Linked DNA regions of Homo sapiens. The protein of the gene in region 2 interacts with the protein of the main gene of each other region in a pairwise test. Each region holds a gene or a part of one and is shown on either strand. Other genes may lie near its edges.

Region 1 (5,286 bases), on a different chromosome or scaffold from region 2:
TGTGATGATCAGTCTTGAGGGTATGTGGCCAGTAATTTATGACAAGTAATAAAGTGTGGATCTTTCAAATGATTCAGATATGTCATGTTAATAATGTCATTTTTCACCCTTTTGCATTCTGATGTGTTTTCTCAAGTGGGAGAGAAAGGGGTGGAGTTACATCAGGCAAGCCAGGAATGTATGCATTCAGCAAATATTTATTGGCTGTCTACTCTTCCAGGCATGAGGAATACAGCTAGGACAAGGCAGACACATTCCTTTTCCTGGTGAACTGCTCTCTTATTTTTGTCCCAGCCTCTTTGTGAATAACCGTTACTGATACATGGTTCATTTATTTATTCCCCAAATATTTGAGCATCTGCCACTTGTCAGATGCTGTGGATTGCACTAAGGGATACGCAGATGAACAAGACAGTCATGGTCCCTGCTGCTGCAGCACTGACAGCCTAGCTGGAAGACCTGAAGGCTGGGATGGTGGATGTGTTAGCAGGGTCCCCTAGCCATGTGCCAGGATGAGATGGGGATGACCACGATGGAGATAAGAGGGAAGGAGTGCTTTCCGAAGAAGGTTTGGAGTATTCTGCAACCTAGAGATGAAAACGTGCAGCTACTTTGAGGAACAGAGAAACACTCTTTATGGCTAGGAAAGAATGATTGAATGAAACATTGTGAGGGATGATGATGGGGGGATATCATGAAGGGCTTATAAGATATTGGAAGGGGTTTGGACTTTACCCTAAGAGCACAGGAGACTGTCTCAGGGTTTTGCTAGTATGAGATGGGAGTGAAGAAAGCCCTCTGCTCTTTGCAGAGTGGAGTTGGAAGGCACAGTGGAGTTGGAAGGAGAAACTGAGGCTGCAGCCCAACAAGGCAGAGAGAGAATGGAGTGTGAGCTAGAGGGCAGCTGTCTTGCTTCTAGTTCCTGGTTCGGGTACCTCCTGAGACCTAGTTTCGTGTGATTGACCATTCATTCAGTGACTCAAGATACTGACTGAGGACCAGCACTGCTCCCAGCCCTGGGCTACACCAGCAAACAAGACAGACAGCTGCCCTTCCTGCCTGCTTGGAGCTTACCTTTTTTTGAGAGAGGTGAGCAAGCAAAGGAGTAGATAAAAAATGGAACTTCAGAGACTGCTGGGAGGAAACTAAAGCAGGATAAGGAGGAAGAGAGTTATTGGGTGGGCAGGGGGGGGGTGAATTGGCAGGGTGAAATGCTAGGGATAAGGTAGTGGGGGATCCTTTTGGACAAAATAATCAGGAAAAGCTTTTCCGAGAAAATAGTCCTGTGTCCTTTGAGAGTCCCCACTTCTTTCGGTTTTTACTTACTTTTTTTTCTGTTTAAGCCACCTTGAGTGGGTTCTGCTCTTTCAATCAGAAGATTCCAAGTATCCCGTTAAGAGGCAACGTATATAAGCAATTTACTGAAGGGAAAAATAGAAGTGTAAACAAATACAAGGGCAGATAGTTAAGTATCCCTGGACAAAAACGTGGTTCTGCCCTCTGTGCTGCTTGCCATGTGCCCAGAGTGGCCATTGAATTCCACCAGAGCGTATTGCCCCTTGAGGGTAGGAACCTTGACTTCCCCCCTCCTTGGAATGCTGGGCTTCCCTTTCTGGTGCATGTTAGGTACTCACTGAGCCTCTTGGAGAAATGGATTTCTGTGGCACACCCTAGTTTGCCACCCCACATGGAGATGTGGCCAGGGCTTAGTGAATGTTTCTGGACTTGGAAGGAGCACTCTGCTTCTGTAGCACAACTGCAGTTTTGTAAACAATCCTACCAACCTTTAGGGCCCAAGTCAAAGTTTCCCTGAGAAACTAAACATGTGCTTTACTGACATCAGATATTCCAGTTTCAACTTTTGTTTGTTTTTCTTTTTGTCAGTCACCTAGCAGTCATGTTGTCACCTGCAGAAAGTCCTGCCTTGAAGGGAAGCAGGCCATCTGTTCTGATTCCACCAGCTGCTCGGAGCTGCATTGCAGTGCGCCACAGTGGCGTTGAAAGGCTGTGGTCATTAATGCCTATTAATGATGGCTGGAAATACTGTGGCATACAAGCCTCTTGGATGACAGACCTAATAAATATGCATCAGGGGGCATTTTCAGCAGCAGGTTTAAGGCTATTGCGAGTCATTCTCGATTGAGGTTTTCTTTCTAGCCATCCGCATAATGCTTCTCACTCTCAAACACTTCACTCTGCTTATCCCTGCTTTTCTGCTCATGCAGAATCTGTTTTTAGGATAAGAAATCATTGTTTCAAGCTTTGTACTTCCATTCTTATTAGTACTGGTTTAACAGAATTTAACCAGAGCGAGCAGTTGTGTGTTTGGCTTCTAGGCTATTGGTATAAAACGGCTGATCGTGATTACCAAGTGCCTCGGAGGACCTCGGTGGCCCCCCTCCTTTCCCATCTTGTGCTTCCTGCTCCATGATTATAGAACACTAATTATAATCAGAACTGGTGATGGGTGAGCAATTAGGCTTTTCTGGACTGATGATTGATTGATGGATTGATTGATTGATTGCGTTGGGGAAAGGCCCTTCCTGCGGAAGGATTGTAGACACAAAGGAGTGTGCTTTCACACCAGATCCCAGAAAATTATGCTGACTAGATCCTTGATGTAGTACATAAGATTACATTATGGTTTGGGTACTTTCATCACATGCTGTGGATAGAATTCAAAATGCAACCTGACAAGACTGATAGGAAATAAATTCATTAAGTTTTTATTGAGTTGTTTTTTGTCTCCTCGGGTTGTTGATCATTCTAGTGAGCACAATTTCAGCCTTTTTGATGAGTTATTCCAAACATTAAGTACTGTACGGTTTGAAAATCTTAGCTAACAAAAGCATTTTTGGAGTGGCTTTATAATTTATAAGTCATCTGCAAGTCTTTTTGCATTTGTTAATCTCCAATATTATCTGAAATTTGTTGAGAGCGTGGCAGTTGAAGAATAGCCTAGCTTACTGAGAACCATGCTTCTGGCAGACTGGAACATAAGCAGCTTTCACCCAGGAGAGCTAATGCATGACACAGATTTTCAAGCTTTTAAAGGTCACCTGACATGAAATAACAGAACTAACAGAGATTCGAGTAGGTGGGGTAATCTATACAAGCATCCTGCAGGTACAGGATGGTGGAAGGACCAGAAGAATGTTTTAACACTGCATTTGGGTGGTTAAAGGACAGGATGAAGAGCTCATTTATATTGGTTGTACCTGTCTGTGACTGTCGGCAGTAAGAAGGTAGTACAGTTCCTGAAATACTTTATGTCTCCTCCACACCATGGAGAACAGTTCTGTGTTGGTGAGAAGCAAGCCAAGGCAGAAGATGGCTCTTGTGTGGTGCAGTTTACAAAAGAGAGACAAAATTTGATAGCAGCCACTGCTGCCAGCCACCTGCACAGCACTCAGGGTTGGGAGAGCTACAGGCCTAGAATCCACTGGTTACTGCCTCCAGATTGAACACTTTGCCATAGAAAGAAAATGAAAACATTCCTCTAGTAGCTAAAGTGAACGTAACTTCTGAAATTTCCCCAGATTCTGTTTGGGGAATTTTAGCATTTTTCATTTCTAATGAGAGGGACTAAAAGATGTGAAATCAAAACTTTTGCATTCAAAATTGATCAACTGAGTGTAAAAGAAATTTAAATAATTGAACTTCCAGATGATGTTAAGTCTGTTGCTTTTATAATTTTGTTGTTTTTAAAGCTTAAAATTACACTAAGAATTTTGAGATGCATGTGTGTATGTATATATTTTATTGCATGTGTGTTCTGCATGGGTATATTAAAAATGGGATTCATTGATCCTGCACATGGACCCCTGAACTTTAAGATGAAGAAAAAAAAATGGGATTGCCTGTACATACTAGGAATTAAGCACTATCTAAACATACACACTAAACACTGATCATTCAGTTTGTGTTAGGTGATGCTGTTGTTGCTGTTTTACGAGGCTGATTTCACTTCAGAGGACTAGGGGTGGTGGAGCCTACATAAGGAAATGCCCCCCAGGGGTACACAGTCTAAGGGCAAGACAGATGACTTAGCAACAAATCATTAATTAGGGTGTAGCGGGATGGTGGGCGAGAGCTCTGGGCATACTATATGCCAGGTTCCGTTAGGTGGTTTACATTATCCTTTCCAGGAGTTCAAATTTATTATCTGGGCAATGAGGCTCCAGCTTAATGACTTGTCCAAGCTCACTCCCCTAGTTAGTGGGAATCTGATTAGAAGGTAGGTCCTTGTGGCTCTCTTGCTTGATTATTTCCACCAGGGTGAAGGTGAGAGGCATGTGTATTGCTGGGAGATTGGGAAAGATTTCCTGGGGCAGTTGGCCTTTAGCAGAGCCTTGAGAGGTGACCTGGGTTTTTTATAGAGCAGTGGTAGTAAAAGCATGGCGATTTTGGAACCTTGAGGGGTATGGCTGGAGGCTGAAGTACTTGGGGAGGGAGGTGAAGTTGGAAAGTCAGGTTGGGGTATTGTTGGGGTATTGAAATATTTGGGCTAGGGTTATAGTAGGTAATCTCAGAGTGGTCCCTGCCTTCATGGAGCTTACAGTCCATCAAGAAGGAAGCCCTTTAAGCAAACCTGGCAAGGTGCTGCCAAGGAGAAGTACAGGGTTTCGTGTACAGTAGGGGACAAAATTTGTTTTTGGGGGAGGGCAGGTTTTTGTGGGGAGGGAGGGAATTCTATGTCAGCAGAGGTAGAAAGGGTGAGTTAGCTAAGGGTTAGCAAGGGGAAAGCAGAGTACCTGAAGGCACATCGAGAGGTTGAGGGGCTGAGAGGCTGAGGGATATCCAGTGCCTTTGGAATTGAAGGGGTGAGAGGGCCTTTGTGATGAGAGAGACTTGAAAGGAAGGACCTGGGCCCAGTAAAGGCTGTGGCCTCTGGGAGGGGGAAGCCCTGCTAATAACATTTCAAGGCATTATTGCAGACTCTAGGTAGCAGGCAGTGTCAGCCTTCTGAGTAGGTTAGTGAACTAATCCTTAGGACCCAGTCTTGCTTGAAATCTCCAAATAGGCTTGTTTTCCCTTTTGTAATTCATTTCCCTCCTACCTTTGTCTCTCTTCCCCTGCCAAAGAACAGTTGCTCACAATGGGCGTAGCCCCCTTCTGTGCGATGGCAAGGGTGAGGTGAGATAACGTGATCCATTTAATTATTTGGGCACTCAGTGGTTTGATTTTGAAACTTGTGCTGGAACCAGTGAATGTTTTGGGGTTAAACTCCACTGGCAGAGCAGTTAGTGATCCAAGAACTCTTTCCTGTTACCCATTCAGACAACT
Region 2 (5,286 bases):
TTGAGCTTCTCCTCGCTGTCGTTTTCAAAGTACATCAGCTTGGACTGGCGGAGGACAAACCAGCGCTTCTTCCAATTTCTCCTGGACAGCGTGGAGGAGCCCCCCCCTTTTTTGTGGAGCCAGCCTTGCTTGAGGGCCTCCTGCTTGGAGCGGAACCACAAGAAGGTTTCATCCTTGAGGACGCACCAGCGGCGTTTCCAAGAGTTCATCAGGCCACCTGTTCCCCGTGAGATTGGGTAGAGAGGGGTGAAAGAAAAGTCAGTCAAGTTGGATGACAACAACATGCATAGCAGGTGTTAAGGTCTAGCCGAGCTTAGACTCTGCCCCAGCCGCAGCACCGCAGAGACCCCTCAGTGAGGAGTGGCACTGCTAGCTCATGTCTGGGGGCACCACACAGATGTCACACCAGCCAGGCTGGATTATACAAGAATCCTTCTATCCAAAGGAGTTCCTGCTCACTTAGCTGAGAAAGCTTTGAAAGGAGCCAATAGAAAAGCAAGTAATGAACTGACACTCTAACCCAGGAATGAGTCAAAAGCCAAGGGTGAGAACCATGTCCCTATGTATGGATCAGGCTTATCCCAAAATGCACCAGAGAGGGAAAATTATTTTAACATGGTGTCAAAGTTTACCAGTTTCTTTACCCGTTTTTTGGGCCAGGAGCGGTGGCTCATGCCTGTAATCCCAGCACTTTGGGAGGCCGAGGCGGGTGGATCACTTGAGGTCAGGAGTTCAAGACCAGCCTGGCCAACACGGTAAAACCCTGTCTCTACTAAAAATACAAAAATTAGCCGGGTATGGTGGTGCGTGCCTGTAATCCCAGCTACTTGGGAGGCTGGGGTAGGACAATCGCTTGAATCCGGGAGGAGGAGGTTGCAGTGAGCAGAGATTGTACCACTAGACTCCAGCCTGGGTGACAGAGTGAGACTCCGTCTCAAAAAATAAACAAAGTTTACCCATTTCCTTCCATATTTGGTCAATGTGCGAACAAGAATTATCAGTGATTCCAGGGTTGACTGATAAAGTCTAACTTACACAGGTAAAGACAATATGGCTTTTTGGAGAAAAACATCTTTTCAAAGAAAAGCATCATCTGAAAATGGTTTACAGGTATAAGACTGAGACTATGAAAAAAAAAAAAAGAAAGCAAGAGTACAAACTACACTAAGATTTGAACTTAAATATACAGATGTTATCTTTCATAGGATAAAAAAATCTTGCTATGCTCTTCAGGGAGGATAATTTTGTATTCCAGATTCCCCAACCTGCTCAAGATCAACATCTGACACACATCTGTTATTATAAGACTGTCCACACATTATTTTCTTTTGACCAACCAGTAATGAAAATAAGGGTCATTTAAACATGGGATATTTAAAGTAAGTATAATCCTATCCTTTTATGCGTTCACTGTGTGAAAACCAGACAGTGCACTTGCTTCACTGAACTTTCTAGACTCCTCTCCCTCCTTTTGTCCAAGAGGCCCCTGCTCATCTAGCTGAGACATCTTTGGTAATTGTGCCAAGCTGCAGAGCCGTGTCCTAACATATGGCAAACTTGCCAACGGCTACCAGAATGAAACATTATTAGTGTTTTGATTTGTGACTTTAATCTGGGTTTCTCAAAACAAGCCTGGAGGAAAACTGTGCAAAATTATTCTATTATCTTGTTGTTGTTAAATGATAAAGCTTATTCACAGTTGTTTCAAAGATTAGAAGAGTCATCACGACAGCTCTCACCATTAGTTTATTTAATCTAATTGATTAATTAGATTTATTTATTTATTTATTGATAGCACTCACTCTTGGCCCTCCCTTTGCAATTTCAGGCCCTCTCTTGATAATTCATCATTTAGAGAATCACTTAATGCTATAATTTCCTAATTGCAAACATCTTTAGTAGGTTATTTGGTTGTAAAAATTTATTTATGCCCATAAAATATAAATTGGTGATTAGATTTTCTTTTTCATTCATTCGTTGCTCTGAAACTTTTTGGCTCTGCTTTAATTAAAGTTTTATTAAGTATTAAATGAGGCTGCATTTACACAATAGCTTTAAGAGATGCCGAAAACTCACCCATTTAACTTCTTTGACCCTGATTTTAATACTTTGAATGTGTCTTTACTTTTTTCCTACTCTTACTGGTTTTAATCCAGTAACTGTATAATAAATCAATGCTGCCGGGCGTGGTGTCTCACGCCTGTAATCCCAGCACTTTGGGAGGCTGAGGCGGGTGGATCACAAGGTCAAGAGTTCAAGACCAGCCTGGCCAACATGGTGAAACCCCGTCTCTACTCAAAATACAAAAATTAGTCAGGCGTGGTGGCGCACGCCTGTAATCCCAGCTACTCAGGAGGCTGAGCCAGAAGAATAGCTCAAACTTGGGAGGCGGCAGTTGTGGTGAGCCGAGTTCGCACCACTGCACTCCAGCCTGGGTGACAGAGCGAGACTCTGTCTCAAAAAAAAAAAAAAAAAAATCAATGTCATACATTAAGAGGAATATTGAAGAGAATTTTCAAATTAACTTAGGGAATTAAAAATTGAGGAATGGGAATTATATATTAGTAAAAACAGTTAAGATGATTTCTAACTGAGAAAATCTTAAGATGCTATGATTAAATACTTATTGGATCAAAGGTTCTGATTTGCAATGACATTTTTTCCTTTGTCAGGTGTTCCAGTGCTGGCTACCTCACCCTTGATGTTTTTCATTCCAACAGTCCTACTAAAAGTCTCCCCTAAACCAAACCTTCTAGGGGTTTCATGAGCACTGTGGGGCTCCAAAGCTGAGGATGGCAGAACTCTGAAAGGCAAATGACTGACAGTCGTCACTAGACCCATGTTTTCTAAGAGGAGCAGGTGAAGCAAAAAAGGAATCCAGCAAACAAAGCCACAAGTGAAGAAAACAGAAAAAAAATATTGAAGATAACAAAAGAAAAGACGTGGAAAAAAACGTAAAGAAGCTAACAGAAAAGAGAAGCACAGAAAGAAAGAAGGGAAAATGGAATAAAAGGGTTTTCATGGCTGGGCGCGGTGGCTCACTCCTGTAATCCCAGCACTTTGGGAGGCCAAGGAGGGCAGATCACAAGGTTAGGAGTTCGAGACCAGCCTGGCCGACATGGTGAAACCCTGTCTCTACTAAAAATACAAAAATTAGCTGGGCATTGGCGTGTGCCTGTAATCCCAGCTACTCAGGAGGCTAAGGCAGGAGAATCACTTGAACCCCGGGGGTGGAGGCTGCAGTGAGCCACGACTGTGCCATTGCACTCCAGCCTGGGCAACAGAGCAAGATCCTGTCTCAAAAAAAAAAAAGGTTTTCATGGTGGTGAAGACAAAAAAAAGAAAATGTAAATGTAAATGAAGAAAGACGGCAATAAAAAGGAAAGTGAAGAAAAAGGAAGAAGACAAATTTAAAAATCAAATATGGGAGAAAGCAGGAAGAGGAGACCTGGGGAGGAAGGTTCTCATATCCCTGCCCATCTCCACCTTCTCGACTCTCTCCCCTCTCCAGTCTAGGTCCATGCGAGAAACAGGACGGTCCCTTCTTTTTAACCATCCACGTAAAACTCCTGCCCAAAATTGGTGATGATTATGGTTTCTTATTATCCCTGTCACTGAGTTACGAGTCAGAGTCAAGAACAGGAACAAAGCATAAATATGAGGTCCCAATTAAATAATTAAATAATTTTCTGGCTAGGCATGGTGGCTCATGCCTGCAATTCCTGCACTTTGGGAGGCCAAGGTGGGAGGACTGCTTGAGGCCAAGAGTTGGAGACCAGCCTGGGCAACATAGTGAGATTCCATCTCTATAAAAAATTAGCCTGGCATGATGGTGTGCGCCTGCAGTCCTAGCTCCTATGAAGGCTGCGGCAGGAAGATGGCTTGAACCTGAGTTCAAGGCTGCAGTGAGCCATGACCACACCACTGCCCTCTAGCTTGGGTAACAGAGCAAGACCCTGTCTTAAATAAATACCTAAATAAATAGATAAATAAATAGTAAATAATTTTCCAAAAGGAGTGTGCCTCAAGGCCCCTAAGTGTTAAGGTTCAGCAAAGTATACTCAAATGTTAGTAACAATCAAAGCATACAATGCAAATGCTCATCATGAAGTAGGTATGGTGAGCAGTTCAAGCCAGCAGTGGGCCTCAGTGAGATCTTCACTTTCCCCCATGTCTAGCACATCCTTTTAGGCTCTCTAATATCCCTGGCAGGAGAGAACATGCAGTTTTTTTTTTTTTTTTTTGAGACAGCGTCTGGCTCTGTCGCCCAGGCTGGGGTGCAGTGGCGCGATCTCGGCTCACTGCAAGCTCCGCCTCCTGGGTTCACGCCATTCTCCTGCCTCAGCCTCTCAGGTAGCTGGCACTACAGGAGCCCGCCACCGCTCCCGGCTAATTTTTTGTATTTTTAGTAGAGACGGCGTTTCACTGTGTTAGCCAGGATGGTCTCGATCTCCTGACCTCATGATCCACCCGCCTCGGCCTCCCAAAGTGCTGGGATTACAGGCGTGAGCCACCACGCCCGGCCGAGAACATGCAGTTTATCATGAGAATGGGTCTCGACCAATTCCAGCAGCAGCAGCAACACACACATTGGTTTGTATGTCTGTATATATGAGAGAGAGCAATGAGACTGAGACAGAGAGGGAGACAGTGAAAGAGAAAGTGGGAGAGAGAGGGAGAGAAAATAGAAGGATGAAGAAAGAGCTAAGAAAGGAAAACGAGACAGGGAGAGACAGGGGAGAAGGACTGATACTGGAGGCAGTGGTTGCAAATGCTTCGTCCTGCCACTCTGCACCAAACCAGGGGAGTCACGACTGTGTTCATGCTGGTAGGACCACAGCACCCATGTCACACCAACATGACAAGGTGTCCCTTCATTCATCTAAGTGGCCCAACACTGAGGTAAGGGTAGGTAGAACGACTTTCCCAGTCCCCATCCATCAGCCCAGATACAATAACACCTCCGTTATTTCCCACCGCCATCCATCAGCCCGGATAAAATAACGCCTCGCTCTCCCCCTAACCCAGACTCCATGGCGGCTGCAGTCATACCTTTCATGTACAGAAAGCTGTGGAAATACGGCAGAGTGACACAGCTGTACACAGAGTCACGCCGGTATGAAAGCTCATCATCTGTATCAAACCTGGAATCAAAGTCCTCTTCACTATCTTCAAACTGGACCGAGAGAGAGAAGCCAACGGTGAGGGAAAAGGCCACAAAGCAAGCCACGAAGATACCCAGCATGTATCATCATTGAAAAAATACAAAAATACAGCTACTCAAGA

The links. The genes of interacting proteins can lie anywhere in the genome.
Region 1: the proteins of MYO10 (region 2) and PELI2 interact in a two-hybrid assay, tested with the Homo sapiens proteins (one study listed by BioGRID).

Annotation. Positions count from the first base shown.
Region 1 is NC_000014.9:56,124,232-56,129,517, forward strand, and holds part of PELI2 (E3 ubiquitin-protein ligase pellino homolog 2), read left to right. Parts: intron 1-5,286. UniProt on the Homo sapiens protein: E3 ubiquitin ligase catalyzing the covalent attachment of ubiquitin moieties onto substrate proteins. Involved in the TLR and IL-1 signaling pathways via interaction with the complex containing IRAK kinases and TRAF6.
Region 2 is NC_000005.10:16,694,398-16,699,683, forward strand, and holds part of MYO10 (unconventional myosin-X), read right to left. Parts: intron 5,177-5,286; coding exon 5,053-5,176; intron 218-5,052; coding exon 1-217. UniProt on the Homo sapiens protein: Myosins are actin-based motor molecules with ATPase activity. Unconventional myosins serve in intracellular movements. MYO10 binds to actin filaments and actin bundles and functions as a plus end-directed motor.